Homo sapiens: one gene and its partners. The protein of the gene in region 5 purifies or fractionates together with the protein of the main gene of each other region. This does not show direct contact. Each region holds a gene or a part of one and is shown on either strand. Other genes may lie near its edges.

Region 1 (3,500 bases), on a different chromosome or scaffold from region 5:
TCGGCCTCCCAAAGTGCTGTCCCAGCACTTTTATAGGGATGAGCCACCGCGCCTGGCCGTCTTACATTTTTTTTTCTCCCTTCAATTGTAAAGCCATAAATTGGTAATGAAAGCATTTTAAACACCTGAAATTAATAAACATTTGTAAAATAACTATTAAAACAATCTATGAACCACACGAATAGCCTTTGATTGCTCCAAACCTGGCTTTGACTATTTTGAGCTTTCTATATTACAACAGACCTTTACTTATACTGTAATTTTTCCTCTATCATTCTGTAAGTTTTGCCTTTCCTGATTGCCTGGATAGTCTTTAGTGGATTTACAGCTTGGTGACAGCCTAGAGAGATTTTCTGTGGTCAAAACATGATTAAATAGAGATTTGTTGGTCAGAAGATAACCATGAACCATAATACCCACAAGGGAAAGAGCCAGATTCAGTTTTGGGTGGGTCGATGGGGATTTACCTCATATGCTTTCTTTTATTTCACAAAATGTGTTCTGTTCTTTACTTTCGTATCTGTAGGAATAGAAATGGGAATGTGGCCTCTAGGGTGTGCTGATGTATGTTTAACAGCTGGCTTTCAAGGAAAAAAAAAAAAAAAAGATCTGATTTGCAGTGTTTACTAATTTTTTTGGTGTAAATACTCTCACCATGGCCAATTTCAAACTACCAACTTGACAGCACTGAAGGCAGAAAAAATGTTCACAGTTGGCTCTTGTAAGCCAGTGCAAGCTTGCTCCAGCACACTACTGGACTAGGAATGATCTGCCTGTAGCCAGGAATGGGAAAATACCTTGCCCATGACAGCTTAAGGTATGAGAGGACAGAATTCTACAAAATACAGAGTTTTTACTTTAAGAAAAATGGATTTACTCATCTACAGTCTGTTTATTTGTAGACTTCGACCTTTTTCTTTTGAATTACTGGCCATATGAGTATGCATTATGTAATAACCTTAGCATTGTAACTTCTATTTCTTTATTCATAAGCAATAACAGTTTCTAAAACTGGCTTGTATTTGAGATTGAAATGATGAGAATCATTTTCAATCCAATTTTTTTTTTTTTTTTTTTTTTTTTGAGATGGGGTCTCACTCTGTTACCCAGAGTGCTGGAGTGCTCACTGCAAGCTCTGCCTCCCGGGTTCACGCCATTCTCCTGCCTCAGCCTCCTGAGTAGCTGGGACGACAGGCACCTGCCACCAGGCCCGGCTAATTTTTTGTACCTTTAGTAGGGATGGGGTTTCACCATGTTAGCCAGGAAGGTCTCGATCTCCTGACCTTGTGATCCACCCGCCTCAGCCTCCCAAAGTGCTAGGATTACAGGCGTGAGCCACCGCGCCCGGCCCAATCTAATTCTTTATACCATGAACCAAATAAATTACCAGTTTTATTTCAGGATATTAGTATAATCTGCATTCTAATATATTTCATAAAAGAAAATATTTTATTTCCATTACATAGGCAAAGTTTGTTTTTTCCCATATCAAAGCCAAATATTATTTGATGTACTGACCAATAATATATGTAGAAAGAATAACAGCAAAATATCTTATTTCTTTATATAATTTAATATATACCCTATTAACACCAGTGTGCAGATGTACAGTACTGACAGTATACTAAATAGTTAGTATTAAAAATTACTTTAAAAATGTTTTCAACATTAGGTACTGGTGGAACCAGAGCTGTTATTTTGTACATCATATCATTTATGTGTTGCAAAGGAAAAGTAAAATTTCCAGTAGCATTAGAAAAAAATGTACTGATATTTTATGTAGATATACAAAATCTCATGACATCTATTGAAAACCTCACAATTCTATTGTGCACTAATAAAAACACCTTTTCAAACAACTTGCACTTATACTGAGTTCATAAAGGCTACTATAAAAATATTGCAAAAGCAATAAAAACACAATATCGTACAAAGTCTTTTGTTTTTTAAAAGTCAAATTTTAAAAGGACTGTATTTATATAAATGTGCAATACTTTTTAGTGACCCTGACTAACATTTTTGTTTAGGATTATCTGATTTTAGAAAACTAAGTTAAATGTTTTTCCTTATTTTCTGTTTCAGAATGAGAAGACACTAAGAATGCACAGAGGTTTAGAAATAAGATTGGGTAAAAGCTTTATGAAGTGGGATAGCAAGCACTCTACATGTTTTACTTGTTGCCCTACCAAAGATACAAATGCCTGACTGCCCCAATTTCTGAAATTTAACTTGAATTCTAAATCTTAACTACCCCCCTTTCCTTTATAATCTTTGAGATGAAAGTGTAAAGATTTTAGGTTCTCTAACAAAACCCAAAATATCACTAAAGCCATTCTCCATTTTCAAAGAATATTTAAAGAAATGCGTATTTCAATATAAAACCTGAAAATGCTGAATTAAGACACCTTAATAACATGGCTAGCCAATTACTGATGTGACTTTAGCCTTAGAAAAAGATTATCAAAATTGGCTAAGTTCCAAATTTAAGCATTTGGTTTTATACTGTTAATATTGTACCTTTCTGATATAGATATCAAAGAAAAATGATCTGATTTTTTTCCTGAAAACAACAGTAAAATACAAATTTTTTGTGAAAAAATCCATGTCAAGATAGGAAATACATTGTTTCAAAACTCAGAATAAGTGTTATGAAAGAACTATAAAATTATAAATTTCTAAAAAAAAATACACTGAAAATGTCTCTCTAGGAAAAAATATGCAACTTGTTAGATACAAGAAAATATGGCATTACCATAGGGTGCAGTCAACTAGGCTATGAGACTTTAAAAACTCACAAAAAGTAATTAGCACCAAAATTGTCTGAAACTTCAAATGATATATTAAAGTAGGTCTAGGTCCAAATGTTACATTTTAAAAAAGTTATATTTAACCTGGGAGCTTTCCCCAGTAATAATAAATATATTATTTTTGACCTTTAGAAAACGTTCTATCTTTACTGATTTTCATCACAATATTAAGGTAGTGTATGCTAATTATCATTTACCTTAGTTTAGGCTGGGTAGGGACAATTGAAATCCAAATATTTCCCAAATAATATGAGATTATTTGGTGGGGAGTGTGAGTGGGGAGAAGTTTTCTAAGTGAAACTTACTTTTAGCTTGTTTCATACTTTTTCTTCTGAAATGTTTTATTGGAACTCTTTATAAGAACTATATTGCTTGATTTGAATTCCATGTCCTGTTATTTTCCCTGTTCACTTTCTGGTGGTGTTACTTAAGATTTGGCATGGGGATAGAGGTGTATAAAGGAGACAGAGATCACAGTAGTGAAACAAGAGTTTTGAATAAGCTAATGTATATTCAAAATATATATTCAACCCTGTTATGATCAAGAGTTTAGTTTTAAGTGACATCCATGTATAAATTTACTTACAAAACAGCCAGCACATGATTTGAAACAAGGCAAACTTTTTCGGTTGTCAAAAAGTGAAATATATAACTTCTTCAATTACATATATGGCTACCAAATGTCAAACAATT
Region 2 (3,500 bases), on a different chromosome or scaffold from region 5:
CAAAGCAAAACTGTCTCTAAAAAGAAATTTATTAATTTAAAACATTTTTAAAAATTATCTGGGTCTGGCAGTGCATGCCTGTAGTCCCAGCTACTTGGGAGGCTGAGGTGAGAGAACCCCGTCTCTTAAAAGACAAACAAAAAAAAGATATTAGTAAAATCTCATGATCTTTAAAATAAATACATAGGCGTGGTGGCTTACACCTGTAATCCCAGGACTTTGGGAGACCGAGGCAGGTGAATCACTTGAGCCCAGGAGGTTGAGGGTATGGTGTTACAGTAAGCCGTGATGATACCACTATACTCTAGCCTGGGCAACAGTCCCAAAAAAAGAAAAAGCAAAATCCAGAGGTTAGGAAGTGCTCAGAACATGATGGGGTCATATGAAAAGAACACTGGAGCCAGTCTGCAGGACAAAATCTGGAACATTTTGAGCATCAAATAAACACTGTACTTAATACAAAATAAACAGTCATAATTACAACCCACTGAATAATTTAAGAATCTATAAATCCATATTGACAGTAAGATGTAGGGATAAAAAGCTCTTTTTTATAGGAGAATGACAATTAATGTAGAAGAAATGATGAATTTAGAAAAATCACAATTTTGGCCAGGTGCGGTGGCTCATGCCTGTAATCCAACCACTTTGGGAGGCCAAGGCGAGTGGATCACCTGAGGTCAGGAGTTCGACCAGCCTGGCCAACACAGCGAAAACCTGTCTCTATTAAAATTACAAAAAACTAGCCGAGTATGGTGGTGCAGGCCTGTAATCCCAGCTACTCGGGAGGCTGAGGCAGGAGAATCACTTGAACCTGGGAGATGGAGGTTGCAGTGAGCCAGGATCCTGAGACTCTGTCTCAAAAAAAAAAAAAAAAAAAAGAAAGAAAGAAAGAAAAAGAAAAATCATGATTTTGCCACCATCCTGGTAATAAGTGATTCAGACAAGAATCAATGGATGCTGTACTGCCAGATGAGAATTCAGAGAGGGATAGGACATTTACTTACTTGTTTTTTGTTTTGTTTTGGTTTCTTTTTTTTTTTTCTTTTTGAGACAGAATCTTGCTCTGTTGCTTAGGCTGCAGGGCAATGGTGTGATCTCCACTCACTGCAACCTCCAACTCCCTGGTTCAAGCGATTCTCCTGCCTCAACCTCCCGAGTAGCTGTGATTACAGGTGTGTGCAACCATGTCCAGCTAATTTCTGTATTTTTAGTAGAGACGGGGTGTCACCGTGTTGGTCAGGATGGTCTTGAACTCCTGACCTCAGGTGATCAGCCCGCCTTGGCCTCCCAAAGTGCTGGGATTATAGGCATGAGCCACTGCACCTGGTGGGATATAGACATATATATTTATTTAATTTATTTTTTAAGACAGCGTCTTGCTCTGTCACTCAGGCTGGAGTACAGTGGTGCAACCCCAGCTCACTGCAACCTCAGCCTCCTGGGCTCAAGTGTTTCTCCTGCCTCAGCCTCCCAAGCACCTGGGACTACAGGTACACACTGTTACACCCAGCTAATTTTTATATTTTTAGTGAGATGGAGTTTTGCCAGGTTGCCCAGGCTGGTCTCAAACTCCTGAGCTCAAGTGATCCGCTGGCCTCGACCTCCCAAAATGCTGGGATTACAGGTCTGAGCCACCACGCCCGGCCTGGGACAAGATATTTAAATGGTCTCAAGGCTGGCAGTCACCACCTCAGCCAAGCAATCAATGTTAATATAACCAGAAATGGGACAAACTGGCATCATGTATCCCCTGATATGATACACTAGGAAGGATGGTTGTCATGGACCATTCCCGCCAAAAATGCAAAACATAAATCTAATCATGGGGAAACCATCACACAAATGCAAATTGAAGGCCCTTCTACAAAATATCTGCACTGTCCTCTTCAAAATGTCAATATCATGAAAGGAAAGAACGGCTGAGAAACTTAAAACTTGAAGGAGACCAAAGAGACACAGCAACTAGATGTAACGCATCATCCTGGATTGGAGAAAAAAATTGCTAAAAAGGGTATTACTGGGGCTGGGCACAGTGGCTCACACCTTGTAATCCCAGAACTCTGGGAGGCTGAGGCAGGCAGATCACTTGAGGTCAGGAGTTTGAGACCAGCCCGGTCAACATGGGGAAATCCTGTCTCTACTAAACATACAAAAATTACCTGAGACCGGGCCTGGTGGCTGACGCCTGTAATCTCAGTACTTTGGGAGGGTGAGGCAGGTGAACCACAAGGTCAGGAGTTCCAGACCAGCCTGGCCAACATAGTGAAACCCCGTCTCTACTAAAAATAGAAAATTAGCCGGGTGTGGCCGGGCGTGGTGGCTCATGTTTGTAATCCCAGCACTTTGGGAGGCCGAGGCAGACGGATCACGAGGTCAGGAGATCGAGACCATCCTGGCTAACACGGTGAAACCCCATCTCTACTAAAAATACAAAAAATTAGCCAGCAGTGGTGGCGGGCGCCTGTAGTCCCAGTTACTCGGGAGGCTGAGGCAGGAGAATGGCGTGAACCAGGGAGGCGGAGCTTGCAGTGAGCCGAGATTGTGCCACTGCACTCCAGCCTGGGCAACAGAGTGAAACTCCATCTCAAAAAATGAAAATTAGCCGGGCATGGTGGCGGGCACCTGTAATTCCAACTACTCAGGAGGCTGAGCCAGTAGCACCGCTTGAGCCTGGGAGACGGAGGTTGTGGTGAGCTGAGATCACGCCACTGCACTCCAGCCTGGGCAGCAAGGGTGAAACTCTGTCTCAAAAAGAGAAAAATAAAATGGTTCGGGGAAAAAAAATACATGTGCATATATATATATATATATATATATATATATATGCAGGGGGGAGGGAGGGAGGGAGAGAGAGAGAGAGAGAGATACAGCGCATGTGACCAGATGAGTCACAGCTGGTGACTCTAGGTAAAGGATTCATGGGAGTTCTTTGCACTGTTCTTTCAAATTTTTGAAATATCTCAAAATAGCTTTTTTTTTTAAGGGAAATATGGCTATGGAGGCTCAGACTGTGCCAACCCACCAGTCACCACCAATCCTGCACAGCCCCGTGAGGGGGTTTCTGTAGATGTAGAGGGGCCACCCATAGGCCGCTGCTGCAAACTGCATGTAATGATGGCAGTTTTCTAATTCTGCATCCAGATCAGCTTCCTACAAGAGAAGGACAAAAACTACTGTTTATTAAGGGAACTCCTGACACAGAGGATCAACACACTGAGACCTGAAACCTGAACTCATTCCTGACTCTTCCTGCTCCTTCGTTGAATAGAACTCTCAGACGCCCACAGGCAAAACTGCTCCTTCAATAAGGATGACATGGACTCCTCATTTTTTTTTTTTTTTAGAGTCTCGCTCTGTCACCAGGCTGGAGTGCAGTGGCACAATGTCAGCTCACTGCTACCTCCGCCTCCCAGGTTCAAGCAATTCCCCTGCCTCAGCCTCTCAAGTCGTTGAGACTACAGGCACCCGCCACCACACCCGGCTAATTTTTGTATTTT
Region 3 (3,500 bases), on a different chromosome or scaffold from region 5:
AGCCAAGATCGCGCCACTGCACTCCAGCCTGGACGACAGAGGGAGACTCCGTCTCAAAAAAGAAAAAAGAAAAAAAAAAAAAGAAAGAAAAAACAGATACTACATATCAAGATCAATGGGTTGTAGCCAAAGCAGTATTTGTGGGGAAATGAGTTGCTCCAAGCCTATAGAGTAAGGCTCTCGCTACAAAAAGGAGGTCAGGCATGCCTCATGGAGGAACCCACACAGATGGAAGCTTCCTCCTTAAGCCCGATTTTTTTCAAGAATCTGAACCTTTTTGAAGTAAATGTCTAGCAAAAGGCGCCTGACCACAAAGGGGGCCCCAGTTTTTCTGCTGTGGTCGTTCCCTGCCCTGGGGTCTCTTACCTTCTCTCTGCCAGTTCTGGGCCGTCAGCAGTATGTGGCTCCGTCCTTCTCTTAAGGCCAATCTGTGAATAAAACCAACAAGAAACAAATGCCTTTCCTCTTCCTCATAGTTCAGCTGGGAAAACTTTACATTAAAGTAACATCCAAGTGCTCAAAAATTAAGAAAACACAACAATTCTTACGCCATGAATCTCTGTAGAGGCAGCAAACCATGTACTAGGCACCAAGTACCCTCCTCTCAGAATAAGAAAAGCGCCTGGCGTCTGCTGGGGGCACAGTCCATGCGTCCTCAGGCACAGCTGGAGGGTGCCCCCTTTTCCTATGCCTTTTTTCCTAGGGAACATTTCATCAAATGGGACAAAAGCCCATTCCAATCCCAGGAGCCCTTGGGGAAACACCGCCCAGGCACCAGGCCGGCATCGGGGAAGAGAGCAGCCACAGCTGTCCTCGGTGCCTTTTTCTGCCTGGTGCCTGTCTGGGTTTCACCTGGGCCTCCCACTGCCTCACTCTGCACACCCCTTCTTCAGCTCCACCTGCAGCGTTCCCTGGAACATCCACATTGCCACGGGCTGCCCTGGCTTCTCTTTCCAAATTCCTGGCAGGGATTCTGGCTCGCCCACCTTAGTTCAGGTGCCCACCACCTGTCTAATCTCCTGGCAGGGTGGCAGGGAGGAAGGCGTCCTACAGTGTTTGGGGGCAGCCCCCCTAGGCTGTGAGTGGGTCAGATGCTTTAAGGAGGAAATGAAAGGAAACCCCTGGTCCACATTTTCCCTCTCCTCCACCACACACACTGCATTGCAACTGTTCTGTCTCTGACCACCCCAGCAGGCTATAGTCCTCCAGGGCAGAGGCCAGATTCTACTCCTCTCTGTTTCTCCAGCACCTTCCACAATTCCTGGCACAAAGAAGCTCAACACTACCAAGTCTCTGGCTGCAGCTCACAGGCAGTCTTCCTGTCCAGCGCTCAGCCCTCAGCTCAGGAGCGGACCACCCACAAATTCCTTTGATCCTTTACAGAAAGAAAAGCTTGTGTGCTAAACCCACCAGGGACCTCCCACTCAGGCCAGCAGAGGAGATGCACCCACTGCAGAGGTGAGTACAGGAACCTGGGGCTGAGGGGCTTCAAGCCCATCATGGCCCAGCTTCTCAACGCCCCCACTAGACACCCCTCACCTCTTGTCAGGGGAGCGCCATCGTGTGCAAGTACCTTAAACGTGTGTTAATATTATTGTTGCTATGTATATTTTAAAAATCACAGAGCATCAGGGGGGCTGATGGCATTCAAGGTCTGGTCCTCAGCCTTGATGGATAGAAACCCAAGTTCTTCATTCCTTAGAGGCAGCTCAAGACAAAGAAATCTGACTCACATCCACAAAACCCACAGAAGACTGATACATTCAAATGCCAAGTTAGGAATGGATAGTGAACAACACAGCGAAGAGGCCTAAACACACACGGTCACTGGTCCTACAGTCTCTCGAGATCTACATGGAAAACCAAACTTCTAGAACAGCAATGAAAAATACAAAGTGTCAGAGACTGAGGACACCATCATGAATAAACCAGGACTCCGTGCCACCCGGTATACACAGAAGTCAGAGAAAGATAAACGGAGCAACTGCAACATGAGGTGGCAAGGGCGCCACTGGGGTGAAATGGGTCTTGAAGTGTGAGCAGAATTTCTGGGCAGAGAGGAGGGAAGGGACCTCCCTGGCCCGGGCCCATGGAGAAAGGCTCGGCACCGTCAAGGGTCTGGCCTACTCGGGAAACATTAGGAAGTCCCCCGCATGCACAGCACAGGCTGTGCTGTCCTGTGTGACGCCCCATGTGTGCAGGCGCACAGGCGTGAAGGAGACTGGGAGAGGCAGACTGGAGATGCCTTCACGCCAGACTGGAGTGCATGGACCTCCTCCTTGAGCACCAAGGGAGGGAGCTGGTGGGGCTTGTTTAGGAAGGTAACGCAGCAGGGGAGGAGGGGGGCTCCTGAGCCCTGGTTACTCAGCTGGGGATGAAGGAGGGCCACACGGAGAGCCAAGGCTCTGTGGCCTCTGCTGCTCCTCAGCCTTGCCAGACACTTCACACATTCACTCACACCCTGATGGGCCAAAGATGTTAGAGAACTGGAAATTAAAACTCATTCCCTGCTCTCAATCTTCTTCCCCACCCTTCTGTACATGATGGAAAATAACATTTTTCTCATGACAAAAGAAATCAGTACTTTCCCCAGAGCCACCAAATTTCAAAAGCTCATAGCCTCTCACTGAAACTTTCAAAGGAATTTATCACACATTTAAGCCTAGAAGTCCACTTAGGCATATGTAGATAACAAGCCTCGTCAAAGTTACTTTAGGTATCTGACTAGTTACTGTTTTGTGGCTTGATTAGCGAAAGCTATTAACCTGTGCTACGGTCTGAGCGTTCCGCCCCACTCCCTGATTCTTGTCTTGAATCTTAACCCCCCAGGTGATGGTTTAGAAGGGAGGGCCTTTGGGAGGCGATCAGATAATGAGGGCTCCACCACCTTGATCTTGGACCATTCAGCCTCCCAAACTGCGAAAAGTAAGTGTTTGCTGTTTCCAAGCCACCCAGTTCATGGTATTTTGTTATAGCAGCTCAAAACCAACTAAGGCAGCCTGCAACCTAGAGAAACCCATGATGTGGAAAGCAATACTAAAACACAGTAAAATTCTGATTCATGTACAATCTACCTGCAAGAACTTATTCTAAAGCTTTATTTTCTTAAACAGAGAGTAGAATGGTGGTTGCTAGAGGTGGGGTCATGGGTGGGAAGTTTTGGTCAAAGGGGTATAAACTTTCAAATATAAAATGCATACGTCTGGAGAGCTAATGTACAGTACAGTGACCATAGTGAGCAATACCAAATTGTAGGCTTAAAATCTGCTTAGAGGGTAGATCTCAAGTGTTCTCACCATAAAGAAATAAAAAAGTAACTGAGGTGATGAATGTGTTAACTAATTTGGTTGTGGTGATCATTTCACAAAGTATACATATATCAAATCATGTTGTACACCTTAAATTTATATAATTTTATTTGTCAATTATACTTCGATGAAGTTGGAAAAATATAAAATAATTTAAAAAAATTTTTAAGCTTTGTTTTCTCATCTCTGCAG
Region 4 (3,500 bases), 1.9 Mb from region 5:
AACTCATCTGTCTGCCCACTATCTCTATTTCATTAGGATTCCAAGGTAGCACCCACTCTGAAATGTGCCCGGAACCCTTAGGCACAATTCCACTCTTCGCTATTCTAAGCCAAATTCATCCTAGACAGAGCAACAGTAGCCACGGGTTCTTCTCCACTCCTATGAAATATCCCAAGTGAGGTAAATATTTTCACATTCCAGCTGCTTGTAAAGGTGTGAAACAGGATGCAATTAAGGTCCCAGAACATTTTACTTAAACTTGAATCATGCTGCTTAGTGACACAATACAGAGTATTGTGGAGAAATCAGCCTTCAAAGAACACAAGCGAATGCACAGAGCCATGATCTCCAGCCTACTGGAAACGCATATTGCTGGGACACGACAGTGTTAACTTCTGGGTCTAATTCTGTTGCTTCCCAAAGACTACAGTTGGTGTGGGGAGAAATAGTCCAAGATCGAAAAAACCACTGACTGTGCCAACTGCAGCACTTCACCTTTTCCAGAAGATAAATTATGAAGAATTTTTGCCAGTTCAAGTTATTTTCCCAAAGCAGAGTCAAATGACCCTTGCAACCCTGCCTTTAAGAAACCAATGCAATTAAACAAAACAGCTATGAACTGCCTGGACAGCATCCTTCCAACTTCATTTGATAAAGTGAGACGCAGACACACATCGACAGACAAGCACACACCTTATTTAACTGCCAGACGCAGTGCCAATATGAAAATGTACATTCAATCTACGGGGGGAAAATCAGCTCAGCAGCTCATCGCTAAAACAAAACAGCCACATAAATGCCGACTAGCCTGCTGCCTTGTAAGGAATGATCACTGACAACTAGAGTTCCTATTCAGCAGGCTAATAAGAATAATTATAGCCAGGGCAGGCATTAATCAGCTTGGCAGATACAGGAATTCTGTTAACAAGGCTAAAATAAGTGCCAAGGAATCTCTGAAGGCCACAGCACTTCAAAGACTGTTAAAGCTGGATGGATTCACTAGGGTTCCTCCCACTGGCCTTCCTCCTCCTTCAGTGCTTTCCAGAGGCAGTTGCATTTCGGCCCGTCCTCAGAGCCGGCATGGCCACCTGCTAGGGTTGCAGAGATGCCACACCTCTGAGGTGCATGCTGGCACTGCCCTTCCCTTCAGGAAGTGTACCTGGGCTGCACTAACCCTGGATCCTCCTATTTTTAAATGCACTTTCACTTTCAAACCACTATCATCTTTCTTCACCTAAGCTAATCTCAAGCAATACGCAGCATAAGGTTTAGCGAACATTAGTAAACTTTTCCTTAGCAGAGACAGAATGGAGTCCTGAGATCAGATCCTAGGTCTGCTAGGAAGAATCTGTATGTCTCTAGACAAGTTAACTAACTTTTCTGGGCATCAGTTTCCTTATCTGTAATAAAGACAAAATAGTGACTTTCTCAAAGTATTGTTGTGAGGAATAAATACCAGAATGTACGTCAGAGCCTGACGCTTGATATGCAATCGAGAAATAGTAGCTATTATTAGTCTGTGCCTATTAGGTGCAGAGCCTTGTACAGAAGCTATGAGGAAAAAAAAACAAAATACTCAGTATGCAGAGACACACACACGTTAGGCAGGAGTGGCTGTGCCTGGGCAGGAGGGTGGACACATTTTTTTCCTTTTTTTTTTTTGAGACAGGGTCTCGCTTTGTTACCCAAGCTGGAGTGCAGTGGTGCGATCACGGTCCCCTACAGCCTTGACCTCCCAGACTCAAGTGATCCTCCCCACTCAGCCTCCCAAGTAGCTGGAACCACAGGCACATGCCACCATACCCGGCTAACTTTTCTTATTTTTTAGTAGAGATGGGGGTCTCACTATGTTGCACAGGCCGGTCTCGATCTCCTGATCTCAAGCAATCCTCCCACCTTGGCCTCCCAAAGTGCTGGGATTGCAGGCATGAGCTGACCTGTTTAGCCCAGATTTTTCTTTTGACCTTATATCCTTTGTAAGTAACACAGAGACTGTTAGCTGTTCCCTCAAAATCTGTCTTTCCCTTCTTCCATAGTAGCTGGCACATGGCTTCCCAGCTTTCCTTACAGCTAGTGTGGCATGGGCCCAAAGTCTCTCCAATAGAACGTGTGCAGAAATGATGTGTGCCACTTTCAAGTCTGACCCACAAAGACTCCAAATATTCTACTCTACGCTCTTTCCTCCTTTGTAGGGGCTGGAATGGTGATGACGACTACCAAAGTGATCTTAGAAACTGTGAGTTGAAGACAGCAGAACTGCCACCAGCTGGGGAGCCAGAATGACTGTGTAAAGCAGGGTTCCCACCCAACCCTTTCCTCTGAAGCATCTCCCTCGCATTGTTATATAAGACACATCTATTGTCTGAACCACTATGCTTTGAGTTTGTTAGAGCAGTTTAGCCTACCTGATTAATACAAAGTCCTTTTATATCATTTGAATTTTAAAATACAGATGTAATGCTTTTGACACTTAAAAAAGTATCTCAATAGATTTGCAAAAATAAAGACATAAAGAGAATGTGTTAATCCCACCCTACAATCTCCATGCCTTCTACTCTCCAATTTATGTTGCACTAGTTGAGGGTTTATCCTCCTCAACACATTACCCTGTCCTGTTAATCTCGCCCTACAAACTTTTAATGGCTACCCATTCCCACAGATAAAATGACATATGTAAGTATTCAGTCAGCCAATATGTATCAAACAACCAGTATGAGTTATATATCCTATTCGTAATAGGGACATTGTAGTGAACAAAATCAACGTGGCCCCTGCCCCCAGGGGAAACAATCAGAGTAGGGAACAATTACATACAATGAAGGAAATATATGCTCTGATGACAGGGCACAGACTGGCTGGCAGCACCCAGAGCACCAACAAATCTACCCCTCCCAGTCCAGACTCCTTAGCACAGCATGCAAAACCTACAGGATCTATCCCAAACCCACCTTTCCTCCCCCATTATTTCCTCCTCCCCCAAATAATTGCACCCCCATTATTTCCTCCTCCTCCCAGCTCCAGCTACAGGGAACTTACGTGCCATTTCTCAATGAGCCATGTACTTTCACTCATCCACACTTTAGGCTTTTCCCCAGAGCCCAGAATGCTCTTCTATCCTTTCTTTCAAAATTCTAATTATCCTCAAGGCTCAACTCAAATGTCACTTCTTCAGCAAAACCAGCCCCAACCCCCAAGTCAAAATTAATCATCCCCTTCCTTGTTTCCCACACTTGGTTTCCATGTCAGGTATTTCATTCAGTCCTGTGGTTAGCTATTTTATTCTCTGTCTACTCACACCCACCAGCCGCTCAGGGAGATGCTGTGTCTTTGTCATTTGTCTGGGACTCCCAGTATTGAACACACAGTTGCACACAGAGTGGCCACTCAAGAAATGCCACATTGAGTGGATGGGCAAGACAGGTCAGACATAGGCAATGGATGTGAAACCTGCTCTATGTGGCTGGGTGGGTTCTGGTGTGATCATGGTAGGTAGGCTTAGG
Region 5 (3,500 bases):
AATAGAAGAATGCCAAAGAGTCTTCTTGTCCGCTATTATTTCCCCTACAATTTTGTAGAGCCCATGGAACCCTATCTGTGGGCACCATTCCATAAACTACTGTCAATGCTTATTTTAAAAAATGGGTACTATAACTTTCTGGTTCTCTCCTCAATTCCATCCTAAGTCAGACTAGGATCTGTAAGTGCTAAATTCAATAAGATATGAATGATCAGTTGTTTTGAAAAGGGAGGGGCAGAAGCAGGTAAGGGCATGGCCAGGAACAGGATTTCAAGCTTCTGGATGACAGGACTCAGTACCAGTGTGTAGCACGGGCGACACCCAATGCACTTTTAGTTAGCTGATTACATTGTGCAACTCTCACTTTACAGAGAAAAGAACTAACGAAGAAACCTGGGGGTGCCGACTCAAGATAGGCTCACTATGGGCATTTCCCCTTTATCATTGCCATAAGGTTGGATGTAATCCCTACCCATCCTGGTTTCAGTGAGACTCCTTCAGTCTCAGCCTACTGCCGACACGAGTCAGGGGTGAATGCTTCTAGGCTGCTCATTTGCTGAGATTGTGAAACTCTCCATTATGCAGCACACGCTCAGACCTGCCTCAGGACTGTCCTTTGGGGAGCTGCAGAACTGCAGCCAGGCTATCCCCAGAGCAGGTGGGGAGGACCTGAGAAATGTCCCTTGATTTGGAGGGCCTCAGCAGAGTATTTCCAGCCACTTCTCCACCCCTCTGTGCTCTAAATACAGAAAAGGGGAAGGCGCTTGTGTGTCCCCTGATAACTGCAAATTCACTGATTTCCTCACAATTCCCACAGCCCTTGCCTTAGTTTAGGCCATGAATTAATCTACATAGAGGGCTAGAGACTAAGTGCCATCTTAGCATTAGCTATTATCATCCAACCCCTGGACAATGGAAATCATCCTTTAACCCGCCTTCCAAATCCAATCTTGCCTCCCTCCAACCTTTCCTCTATCCTCTACCACAGGTTCTTCCAACTCTTGGTGACTCCCCTTTCCTTAAGGGTGAAGCCCACCCTTTCAAAGGGGCATACAAAGATCTCAATGATGTAGATCGAATACTCTCTCCATTACCACCTCTCGCAACTCCTGCCATACCTGTCCGCTGCTATCCATTCTTCCCACACACTCTTCTTTTGTACTTTAGAAGTACAGAGCCACCTGGTGGTGGTCTGGATGCACTACGCTTAATACCATCTATGCCATTGCCTTTGCCTGGTAGATTATGCAGAGAGCTGGCATTTGTTGAGTGTTATATGTCCCAGACACTTTATTTATATTAATTTGTAATACTACTGTATATGTAGTATCCCATTTAATTTTCACGGCAATCCTATAAGGTTTATATATTAACAGACGAGGAAATTGAGGTATAGAAAAATTAAGAAATTTTCCTGCGATCTCAGAGCTTGCAAATGGTGGAGCCTAGAGTTAAATCCAAACCATGTGATGCCAGAGCTCGCCCTATTAATCTCTATGCTCTGCTGCCTCTTCAAATCGTAGGTGAGAGAGATTAACCTGATATGTTGCATTGAATTTGTAACAGTAGAAAGAGACCCAGAACTGAAAATCATTTATCTAGGTTATGGATAGTAGCCTTAAAACGGGAAGTTAATAACAATGACACACTCAAGGTCATAATGAGTTAAAGTTGAAATTTCTATTATATTTTAGAGGACAAACTATTAATATATTTATGAGCTTTGTTCTTAGAAGATGTAATACATTGTGAACAAAGGTCTTTTTTCTTTATGAGAATTCTCTCTTAAGATACTATCACACTTGAAAAGAAATAAGATGCAAAGTTTCAAGGCTTTTTAGAGGGCAAAAAGGGTAAGTTCTAGAACTTTCTCACCGTCAGACCTGCAATTCCAATACCGACAATTCCAATGAGCTGGAGCTTAACACTGATTATGGTCTCAATTTCATCGATGCAATTCTGTTTTGAGGAAAAAAAGTCGGGAATAAAAACTGATTGTATGTGTCAGTCATTATCCTGATCCTATCCTTTCCATCTCTACAGTTCATTCTGTGAGAGTTAATCCATGCCAGCTTCTACTCATGTTTCAACAATTCATCTTTGATAACATCATCCTAATAAGCTTAATGCAAAAATGCAGTTTGGGGAAAAAAATAGAAGCCTCTCCTTTGGGTGAGATTTTCATGTTTAGGCCAGTGGCTTCTTCGGAGCCCTGAAATATAACTGGAGGAAGCTATTTGTCTGGTTCCAAGGAATCTAAAAATTTGGAGCCACTTCTTACTTGTAGCAAATAAGTAAAATACCCTTAAAACAATAACTCTTTGTTTTCATATTGTCATTTACAGTTTAAAATACTTTCTATGTCTTTGACCCAATTTACTATGCAAAGTAGGCATGACCTATTAAGAAACTAAAAAGTCTTAACAGGTTCAAGTTAAACAAAGGAAAGCCAAGAATTAGAAAAGCCAAGTCTTGGAGCTAGAGGACCATTCTCTCCTGTGGTGGCTGGGCTGGGCTGTGCTGGGTGAGTTCCTATCCTTTCATCTGTGCCCATAAGACACCTGTGCAGCATAGATTCAAAGGGCCTTCATGGATGTGGGGAAACTTAGACAGAAAGCCAAATAGATCACCTGTAACTATTATTAGTTTCTCCAACTTCAAACACTCCTATTTGGAGTGCTCTTAAGTAGAGGGATGCTCTCAATCCAACTGTACCCTCAGGTTGTTCAGATCTGTTCACTTGTCACTGGTTGGTTCCTTTGATACCATCTGAGCTATATAAAACCCTTACTTCTCTCTTCGTATTTCCTATCACACTTCATTCATTCAACAAACATTTCTTGAGCATCTACCTTGCATTAGTCACTGGAAGAGGGGTGGTAGATGCAGAGACAATAGGATATGGTTTCTCCTGCTTTCTGGGAATTCACAGTTTAGAGGACACAGATCCACAAGAGATACCTATAATGCATTCTGACAAAAGTTTGAAAACTACTCTTCTAAGGAGTGGCTCCCTTACTTAGTGGAAAAAATGAGAGTCAACCTATAGCAATTCTTTCACTCTTCCTCTCCTTCTCCTATACACTTAGATGCTCCCTTCCTTCAGTGCCAGGCATTGCTGTAGGTAGCAAGCACACTCCTGACTCCTTTTTCTCTGATCAGAGCCAAAGAGGTGCCCTTCTCTGTTGAAAGTTAACCTCATGGCTGGGCGCGGTGGCTCAAGCCTGTAATCCCAGCACTTGGGAGGCCGAGATGCGTGGATCACCTAAGGTCAGGAGATCGAGACCAGCCTGGCCAACATGGTGAAACCCCGTCTCTACTGAAAATAAAAAAATTAGCCGGGCATGGTGGCACCTACCTGTAATCCCAGCTACTAGCGGGGCTGAGGCAGGAGGATCACTTGAACCTGGGAGGTGGAGGTTGCAGTGAGCCGAGATCATGCCACTACACTCCAGCCTGGGCAACAGAGTGAGACTCTGTCTCAAAATAAATAAATAAAT
Region 6 (3,500 bases), on a different chromosome or scaffold from region 5:
GAGGCACTGGAACCAGCCTAGGAGAAGACATCTGGCACTCCTCAGCAGGGAGCCGGGGACTCATGCCCTGGCCACTGCACCCTGTTAGAGATGAGAGGACAAGCTGGATGAGAGGACAGGCTGTGGGTTCTTGGGTGTGAAATGCCAAGGAAGCTCAATAACAACCTACTAACAGAGGGAGCCAGTGGAAGGCAAAGCCCTGGGTAGCCCCGGTCCCAGATCATCCCAGCCCTGCCAGGCCCGGCCCCACCACTCAGAACAGTGGTGGCCAGATTATACCCTTCTGGTCCCAACTACCAACCTCATAATCAGTCTAGGGGAATGGGCCAATTTCCCATTAATGACCCCAAAATGAGGCACCATGGCAGCTGAGCTTCCTGGGATGGTGGCCCCGCAGGACAGCTGCAAAAAACACCGACCCCAGGAAATGAGAATCTTAAGAGAGGAAGGGCAACCCAGGTGTGTCCTTCACACATGCCTCCAAGACCCACCTCCGTGTCAACACATATGCCCCTGGCACCTACCCAGGGCTGCACGCAGCAGATCTAGGTGAGGGTCTGGTACACAATGGAAGGGATGAGCCCCAAGCCCATGGGGTGGATGGCTTCTTCATAGGGGATAAAAAGAGCTATCAGCCTATGAGGGCCGGAAAAATCGTTAGAGCATTACTTCGGGAGTCCAAAAGGAGACCCCAGCTCAGTCCTAAGTGGCAGAATCAGCTCTGGGGCCAGAAATCCTAATCCAAGCTGACTACAATCCCACTCACCCCTCTGCAAAGGCATCTAGGCTCATCTAGGGCTGCCCTTGATAAGAGATGACGAAGAGAAAATGACCCTGGACAGACTATTGAAGCCACTGCCACATTCCTCAGAAGCCAGGCAGCAGGCTGAACTCACACAGCACTAGGGCAGAAAAGGTGCAGCAACCAATCCCAGCACGGCCTGCCCTGGCCGACTCTGAAAGGGTAACAGGGCCACTCTGCCAGTCCCAAGAGTTACCCACCTGTACTTGGCCTCCCGTCCCACAAACTGGACCATGCAGCGCATTGAGATGACTGAGGAAAAAAAAGAAAACACACACAGGTGATGTGGTGGGCCACACTTCATAATGCTCCAGCCACCGGGTGCCAGGTGCAGAGTGGCCACTGAACAACGTGGCCTATTCAGAGAGCAGGAGAGGAAGAGGGCCTTTCGGATTCCCTGTTACACCCCATGACCACAGCATGCCATTTCTACTGCCTGGGAAGAGCCCCACCTCCCTTTGGAAAGAATTCCAATCTCTCCTCAGTGAGGTGGGTTCCAGTAGAATACCCCCAACCCCACTACCACTTCCCAACAGGTCTACGGCTGTCTATGTACAGTCCACGAGGGGGCGCCCCTCACCCCACGCCCCCGACGCCAGCTTAGATACAGTCTCGGGGGAAGGGGGGTGGCTTACCATGCAGGGGGTGGGCCAACATGCGGGACACACACTGCATCATCATCTCGTAGGAGGTCTGGAAGAGAGCATGGGGTGGGGACTCGCCACCCTCGGCCTGTCTCTGGAACTGGCCCTCGAGGGGAGCTACAAGTGCTCAGGAGGGAGAAACCTGTCCCAGGGACTGCACATGGGGTCGGTCTGCCAAGGATGGCTCCACCTGTTGCCCACTCCCCAGTCCCCCACCCAGGAGTGCTGTCGGGTCCCAGGCTAGGCCCAACAATGGCTGAGAAGGCTTTCCGGGGTTCCCGGCACATCCAGGCCAGGGCTTCTTCCCTTACCATCCCACCCATGCATACACAAGGACCCAACTCTTCGACTTGTCAATGACCCGCCCAACTTGGGGGTGAGAAATCATCAGGCTCCCCTCCACGCACCTCTCCCTCTCCAACTCTCAACACCCACCTCCTTCACAACTTTCTTCAGGGAAGTCTTCATATCATCCTTGTTGGAAACCTGCTCAATCTCATCTGGAGGGAAAACCTGAAACAGAGAAGGGAAAGAACCAAGTTCAGCTACGCCTCTTCCATGGAACTCTTCGGGGACTTGGGCGGCAGGAACCAGCTCCAAATATTTCCTCTGCAGTGTCTATTGGCTGGGCCCACCTCAGGTAACCTCCAGGTCTGGAGCTTGGGGGGAAAAGAAAGCCACTATCTGGTGTCACAGCTGTGGGAAAGCAGAACTGTGGGGTGGGAGCTCCCCCATGGGGCTGGAGTGAAGCCCCCAATGGTCTGGGAAGGAGGAGGCAAGACCAGGGTAACTGGCTGCTGCAGGGGTGGCTGGGAGTATGAGGAAACCTCGGGCGACTGTTCCTGGCTTTGTGTGGGCTCACCTTCTTCATGCTACCCCGAGTCACAGTAGAGAGGGCGTTGGACATCAGCCGGGGACTCAGGCCTCGGAACAGCCCTATCTTACCATCCACTTGCACGATGTACTTGGCTGTAAGAAAACAGAGGTGGCAGAGGAGTCACACCCAGTTCAGGGGCACCCACTCCTGGGTCACACACACCCAGACCAGGCTCGGCTTGTCCTTCAGGTAACTGCTGACTACAGGCACAGAAGGTAACATCTGTCCAGGACCTGGAAGCAGTCAGGCCCTAACCCCCAAATGTCTTCTAGCCCATTTCTTTTAGTAAAAGCCTCAAAATGTATTTCTGACAAACAAGTTCATATATTTTCTTCCTTCCTTCCCTCCCTCCCTCCTTTTTTTTTTTTTTTTTTTTTTTGCTTTAAAAACTTTACTTGGCAAACTCAGCCATGATTTCTCAACTCAGCAACTTAAATGCTGCAACACAGAAAACAATTCTGTTACTTAAAAATTACATTTTTCTTGAGGAAAAGAAAATAGGAAAAACAGAGAAACTGCCCGCAGGGAATGATGAAGTCTTCAACCTAAAGGAGGGAAAAAGGAAAAGAAAGGGCTCCCAGAAGACAGGCTCAAGAACGCCCCCTGCACATGCCACGGCCAGGGCAGTCTCCACCCTGTCACTGTGCTACACCCAGGATACCACCTGGCACCAGATGGCATTGATTAGTCAAGGGAAAAACAAGTCTATGGAGAAGTAACTAAAACAGGAGCACCAATGAACAATTCCATAGAATAAACTTAAATGTTATGGAAGCTAGACCCTACCTGTGTGAGTTAGTGTTTCTTTCACTAGGGTCTGTCTTTCTAAGGATACGATTCATTGTTTTCTATCAACATTTTAAACATGTTTTAAATGGCAGGGTGGTATTTTTATAAACCTGTGCATCTGGAAGCTAGCAGAACATTCTCTCAGACAGCATGCTCCCCCTGTTAGACCATGACTTTAGCTCTCTGGCACCGCGCAGAGGCAGGAAGAAGCAAATATGCCTTTTGCTCCTCCGCAGATGTCTGCCAGCCCAGCAATTCAATGTCACAGCTAGCATGGGTTTTTCATGAGGCTGAGAACACCTGTTACCTGTATATGTGATTGCCTGAGATGAGGGTGGGCTGGAAGGAGAGGAGGAGGAGGGGAGGGGATGCTGGGTGACTTGGCAAG
Region 7 (4,039 bases), on a different chromosome or scaffold from region 5:
TTCTGACTTCATAGGGGTCAGTGGCCCTAATCTCTGCACTGTTCAAGGATCAACTTCATATAAAATTATTTTTTATTTCAGAATAGATGTACCTAGTATACCCCATCTCAGAAGGGCCCATGTTTTCTTGTATAACAACATTTCAGAGATACTCTTATCATCTGTGTGTGTGTGTGTGTACGTGAATACACACATAAGTTTTTTTTTTTTTAATCACACATATACACTGAAAAGCATGCTACATACACCATCTGGCACCTTCCAAAAGATTTTTCCTGGAAAAGGGATACATAATCATGGTTTTATTCAAGACAGTTCTAGTGTTTAAAATCACTTTTGCTGACTACAGCAGTAACAAATGGAAAACACCAAAACATATGCAAAAACAGCTTCACTCATAAACCCAACCACTCAGGTAACATTTACCTGTATTTCCTACCTTCTCTGCATAAAAGAAATACAGGGTACAGGTTAGATGGTATACAGATCAGATGGCATCCTATGACTTTTTAATAACACACAACACTAAATGTTATGACCATAAGTAGATGACCTCAGAAATCTAGTTTAACCTGCTCCTACTAGATGGCTCTCCTACCTTAGAAACCTAAACTGACCCAGTTCCCAAAAGAGGTAGGTAAGAATCCATGGACAAAAGTTAATCATATGGGCTGCGTGCAGTCGCTCACGCCTGTAATCCCAGCACTTTGGGAGGCTGAGGTAGGTGGATCACTTGAGATCAGGAGTTCGAGACCAGCCTGGCCAACATGGTGAAACCCCCGTCTCTATTAAAAATGTAAAAAAAGTAGCCGGGCATGGTGGTGCCCACCTGTAGTCCCAGCTATTCTGCAGGCTGAGGCATGAGAATCACTTGAACCTGGAAGGTGGCTGTTGCAGTGAGCCGAGACCGCATCACTGCACTCCAGCCTGGGCAAGAGAGTGAGACTCCGTCTCAAAAATAAAAATAAAAATAAAAATCATATGAAGCTTACATTTCTTTCATACTAAACCTGTTAGTCTAGCTTGGAATACCTTCCAGATGACAGAAAGCAAATAATAATTAGTGTTCCCTCTGTTAAGGATCCCACTTCTCCCACACTCCTACAGTTCAAACATCTCACCATCACAGAGCACACTTCTCAGTAAAACATCAACTACTATTTAAGCTCAATAATATTTAAACCAAGAATCAACAAGAAAGCAAGGCCACTTTTAGGGAAGAAATCTAACTTCAACATAGTCACAAATAATGGTTACACCAGAGAAAAATGAAGTTACCAAATTCCTTGCGCATTCCTCCCTGTTGCTATCCTTGGGAATCAACTACCTTAAGATAAAGAGTAAGAATGGTTGCCTGTTCAAAACATCAGAGAAAACAGCTTGCGGATGCTGTCAATGAGAACTATCTCAGATTTCTTTCCACCAAAAGCAAATCTGGTGTTAATTTTAATGGAAAAGTCTCCTCTACTACCTATTGCATCGCAACAATTTCTTGAAATAGTAAAATGAAGTAAAACAAGTTTATTTCGGGGGCAGAATCTTCTGATTTCAAAATGTCAATTGAATTTATCAATTTTAACCTTTCGGAATATTTCAGGTTTTTTTGGGGAGGGTGGCATCAAGTCCTCTTAAGAATATTATAGGGATGTGGCCGGGTGCGGTGGCTCACGCCTGTAATCCCAGCACTTCGGGAGGCCGAGGCAGGCGGCTCACGAGGTCAGGAGATCGAGACCATCCTGGCTAAAACGGTGAAACCCCGTCTCTACTAAAAAAAAAAAAAAAAAATACAAAAAAATTAGCGTGGTAGCGTGGTGGCGTGGTGGCGGGCGCCTGTAGCCCCAGCTACTCGGGAGGCTGAGGCAGGAGAATGGCGTGAACCCGGGAGGAGGAGCTTGCGGTGAGCCGAGACCGCACCACTGCACTCCAGCCTGGGTGACAGAGCGAGACTCCGTCTCAAAAATAAAAAATTCTAAGGATGTTGGGACGGGTACCACTTTGCTTTCTGATTTCTGTCCAACAAATCTTTATGATCGTCTGTTTTATTCAACAATACTGCGGGAAAAGCTTCAGCTGCAAGCTGAGGGGGTGGGAGGTGGGGAGATGGAAGAACGCGCTGCAGGTGTGCGGATTCTGCCTAAAATTGCGGCTACGAACTGGACCTTGAACACTCCTCCGTCAGCTGACTTGACTGCCTGTGTACAGTCTCAATTTGAGCCGACACACGGATTTCACTTTTGAAAAGCAACGAAGATGAAGAACTCGTTTTGAGAAATGGATGAGAAAAAGGTAGCTCAGGAGACGAAGCCTCGGGAAAGGAGGCAATCAACCCCACCCCACCGGCCTGTGCTTCCGGCCTCGACGCTCCGCCGTGCTCCCCGAGGCCGCTCCTCTGCGGAGCTCGCTCTCCCCACTGGTCCCCAGTCCCGCAGCTACGCGGCCTCCGCACGGTTAAGCAGCACGGGCCGGGCGTCTGCACCTTCGGAGAAAAGCCGCCGCCCAGGCTCCGCGCTGCGGCGTTACCTGTTAAGAAGCAGGGAGGCGGCGCTGAGACAGAGCAGCAGGAAGCAGAACAGCGGGTACTGGCGGCAGATCTCGCGTCCCACGTCCAGTCGCAGCCGCTGCTTCAGCTTCTGCCCCATCGTCCGCACCCAGGGCACCATCTCCGTAACGGCGAGGCCGAGACTGCGCTACTGGCTGAGGCAGAGGTCAAGGCGACCCCCCATCCACACCTCGCGTCCCCGCCCCACCGACTTGGCGGCGCACACAGACGCCTACCGGCAGTTAGCCGCCGCAGGCTGAGGTCGCGTCCGGCTGGGCCCAGCCCCACGCCCCCCGCCGCGCGTGCGCGGCCGCGGTCCCCAGCCGACCAGAGGAACGGCCGTAGAACGTGCCCGAAGTCGTCACCCAGCGCAAAGCCTCTAGCGTCTCGCCGCTCCGCCCTCCTGGCCGGAGTAGCGCGCAGTCTTCCGTGGAAACTCTGACAACACTGGCGACCGGCCATTTCCGGAAATCAAAGGACAGCCCCAGCACCCAGTAACTGCCTGTATTGCGGAGGAGAGGGAAGAAGGTTGTAGGGAGCCCGGAAGAAACTACAGCACCCCCGTAGCCGCCGGGCGCTGCCTGAGGGGCAACCGGAGCTCGTGGAGCCCGCTGGGAACTGTAGTCTTCGTGACACGAACCCGCAGAGGGATGGAGCGGGTGGTAGCGCTTCCCCGACCCCGCAACGCTCCGCGCCTCACCGTACACTCGGCTCCGGGTGGGAGCAGGTCCGAGCTTTGCGTGACGCCTAAGGGAGAGGGGGATAGGAGGACGCCTTTGAGTCGGTATTTTAAAAGGGGTGTGTTGGGGGCTGGGGGGGTGGCGAGTAAAACAGCCCTAGAATAAAGACTACAACTCATCAGGCCGCCACCCCACCAACAAAATCTCTTTTGCGCGCTCACGGGCAAGGGTAGAGCTCAATTCACGCCGGCTCCGGGAGCCCAACCAAAATCCGAGTGCTTGGAAGAGGCAGGTTGGCAGATTAGGTAAAATCCCTCTTATAGAGTCTCATGGGGTTTTCCCTTTACTAATTCATCACATTTCTAAATTTTTTTTTCTGTATTGTCCGCTACAGTGAGAGATGCAGGAAGACTATTATCGCGAAAATTTACTTAGGCGGTACAGACACTAAGCACTTTCATTTGACCTTCATGCATTCACCCCATGGTGTAGGTACAGTACTATAGTTTCAATCATTATACAGGCAAATTACTGAGACAGAAAGGAACTTAGGATCATAAAACTAACAAAGCCGGAATTTGAACACGTTCTAAAGACAGAGCCTGTGCCTGTCATCTCTCTTTCCTAGGATCTTATCCTTCAAAGTGGGGAAACAAATGTTTTTTAATGATGTATGTAGTTTCATGAATATTTTCCCGTATTACAAAAACATGGATCTTTAATGATGCATTATTATCCTTTATCAGAATGTACCATCCTGTTCCATTATTGCTAACCACTAAAGTCCATTGATATTACCATCCTTGATGATAAACCTATG

What was found.
Region 1: the proteins of TSPAN2 (region 5) and FAM241A purify together in Homo sapiens (affinity purification with mass spectrometry; 2 studies listed by BioGRID and IntAct, with this or other methods). This does not show direct contact.
Region 2: the proteins of TSPAN2 (region 5) and DAGLB purify together in Homo sapiens (affinity purification with mass spectrometry; 2 studies listed by BioGRID and IntAct, with this or other methods). This does not show direct contact.
Region 3: the proteins of TSPAN2 (region 5) and HSDL1 purify together in Homo sapiens (co-immunoprecipitation; 3 studies listed by BioGRID and IntAct, with this or other methods). This does not show direct contact.
Region 4: the proteins of TSPAN2 (region 5) and PTGFRN purify together in Homo sapiens (co-immunoprecipitation; 3 studies listed by BioGRID and IntAct, with this or other methods). This does not show direct contact.
Region 6: the proteins of TSPAN2 (region 5) and MTCH1 purify together in Homo sapiens (affinity purification with mass spectrometry; 2 studies listed by BioGRID and IntAct, with this or other methods). This does not show direct contact.
Region 7: the proteins of TSPAN2 (region 5) and SNX14 purify together in Homo sapiens (co-immunoprecipitation; 3 studies listed by BioGRID and IntAct, with this or other methods). This does not show direct contact.

Annotation. Positions count from the first base shown.
Region 1 is NC_000004.12:112,186,954-112,190,453, reverse strand, and holds part of FAM241A (uncharacterized protein FAM241A), read right to left. Parts: 3' UTR 1-3,500.
Region 2 is NC_000007.14:6,427,455-6,430,954, forward strand, and holds part of DAGLB (diacylglycerol lipase-beta), read right to left. Parts: intron 3,154-3,500; coding exon 3,026-3,153; intron 1-3,025.
Region 3 is NC_000016.10:84,135,178-84,138,677, forward strand, and holds part of HSDL1 (inactive hydroxysteroid dehydrogenase-like protein 1), read right to left. Parts: intron 429-3,500; 5' UTR 367-428; intron 1-366.
Region 4 is NC_000001.11:116,912,916-116,916,415, reverse strand, and holds part of PTGFRN (prostaglandin F2 receptor negative regulator precursor), read right to left. Parts: intron 1-3,500. UniProt on the Homo sapiens protein: Inhibits the binding of prostaglandin F2-alpha (PGF2-alpha) to its specific FP receptor, by decreasing the receptor number rather than the affinity constant. Functional coupling with the prostaglandin F2-alpha receptor seems to occur.
Region 5 is NC_000001.11:115,051,504-115,055,003, forward strand, and holds part of TSPAN2 (tetraspanin-2), read right to left. Parts: intron 1,960-3,500; coding exon 1,876-1,959; intron 1-1,875. UniProt on the Homo sapiens protein: May play a role in signalling in oligodendrocytes in the early stages of their terminal differentiation into myelin-forming glia and may also function in stabilizing the mature sheath.
Region 6 is NC_000006.12:36,976,197-36,979,696, forward strand, and holds part of MTCH1 (mitochondrial carrier homolog 1), read right to left. Parts: intron 2,416-3,500; coding exon 2,309-2,415; intron 1,960-2,308; coding exon 1,882-1,959; intron 1,589-1,881; exon of another isoform or gene 1,496-1,588; coding exon 1,438-1,495; intron 1,055-1,437; coding exon 1,003-1,054; intron 1-1,002.
Region 7 is NC_000006.12:85,591,059-85,595,097, forward strand, and holds the start of SNX14 (sorting nexin-14), read right to left. Parts: upstream 2,801-4,039; 5' UTR 2,661-2,800; coding exon 2,521-2,660; intron 2,043-2,520; exon of another isoform or gene 1-2,042. UniProt on the Homo sapiens protein: Plays a role in maintaining normal neuronal excitability and synaptic transmission. May be involved in several stages of intracellular trafficking. Required for autophagosome clearance, possibly by mediating the fusion of lysosomes with autophagosomes.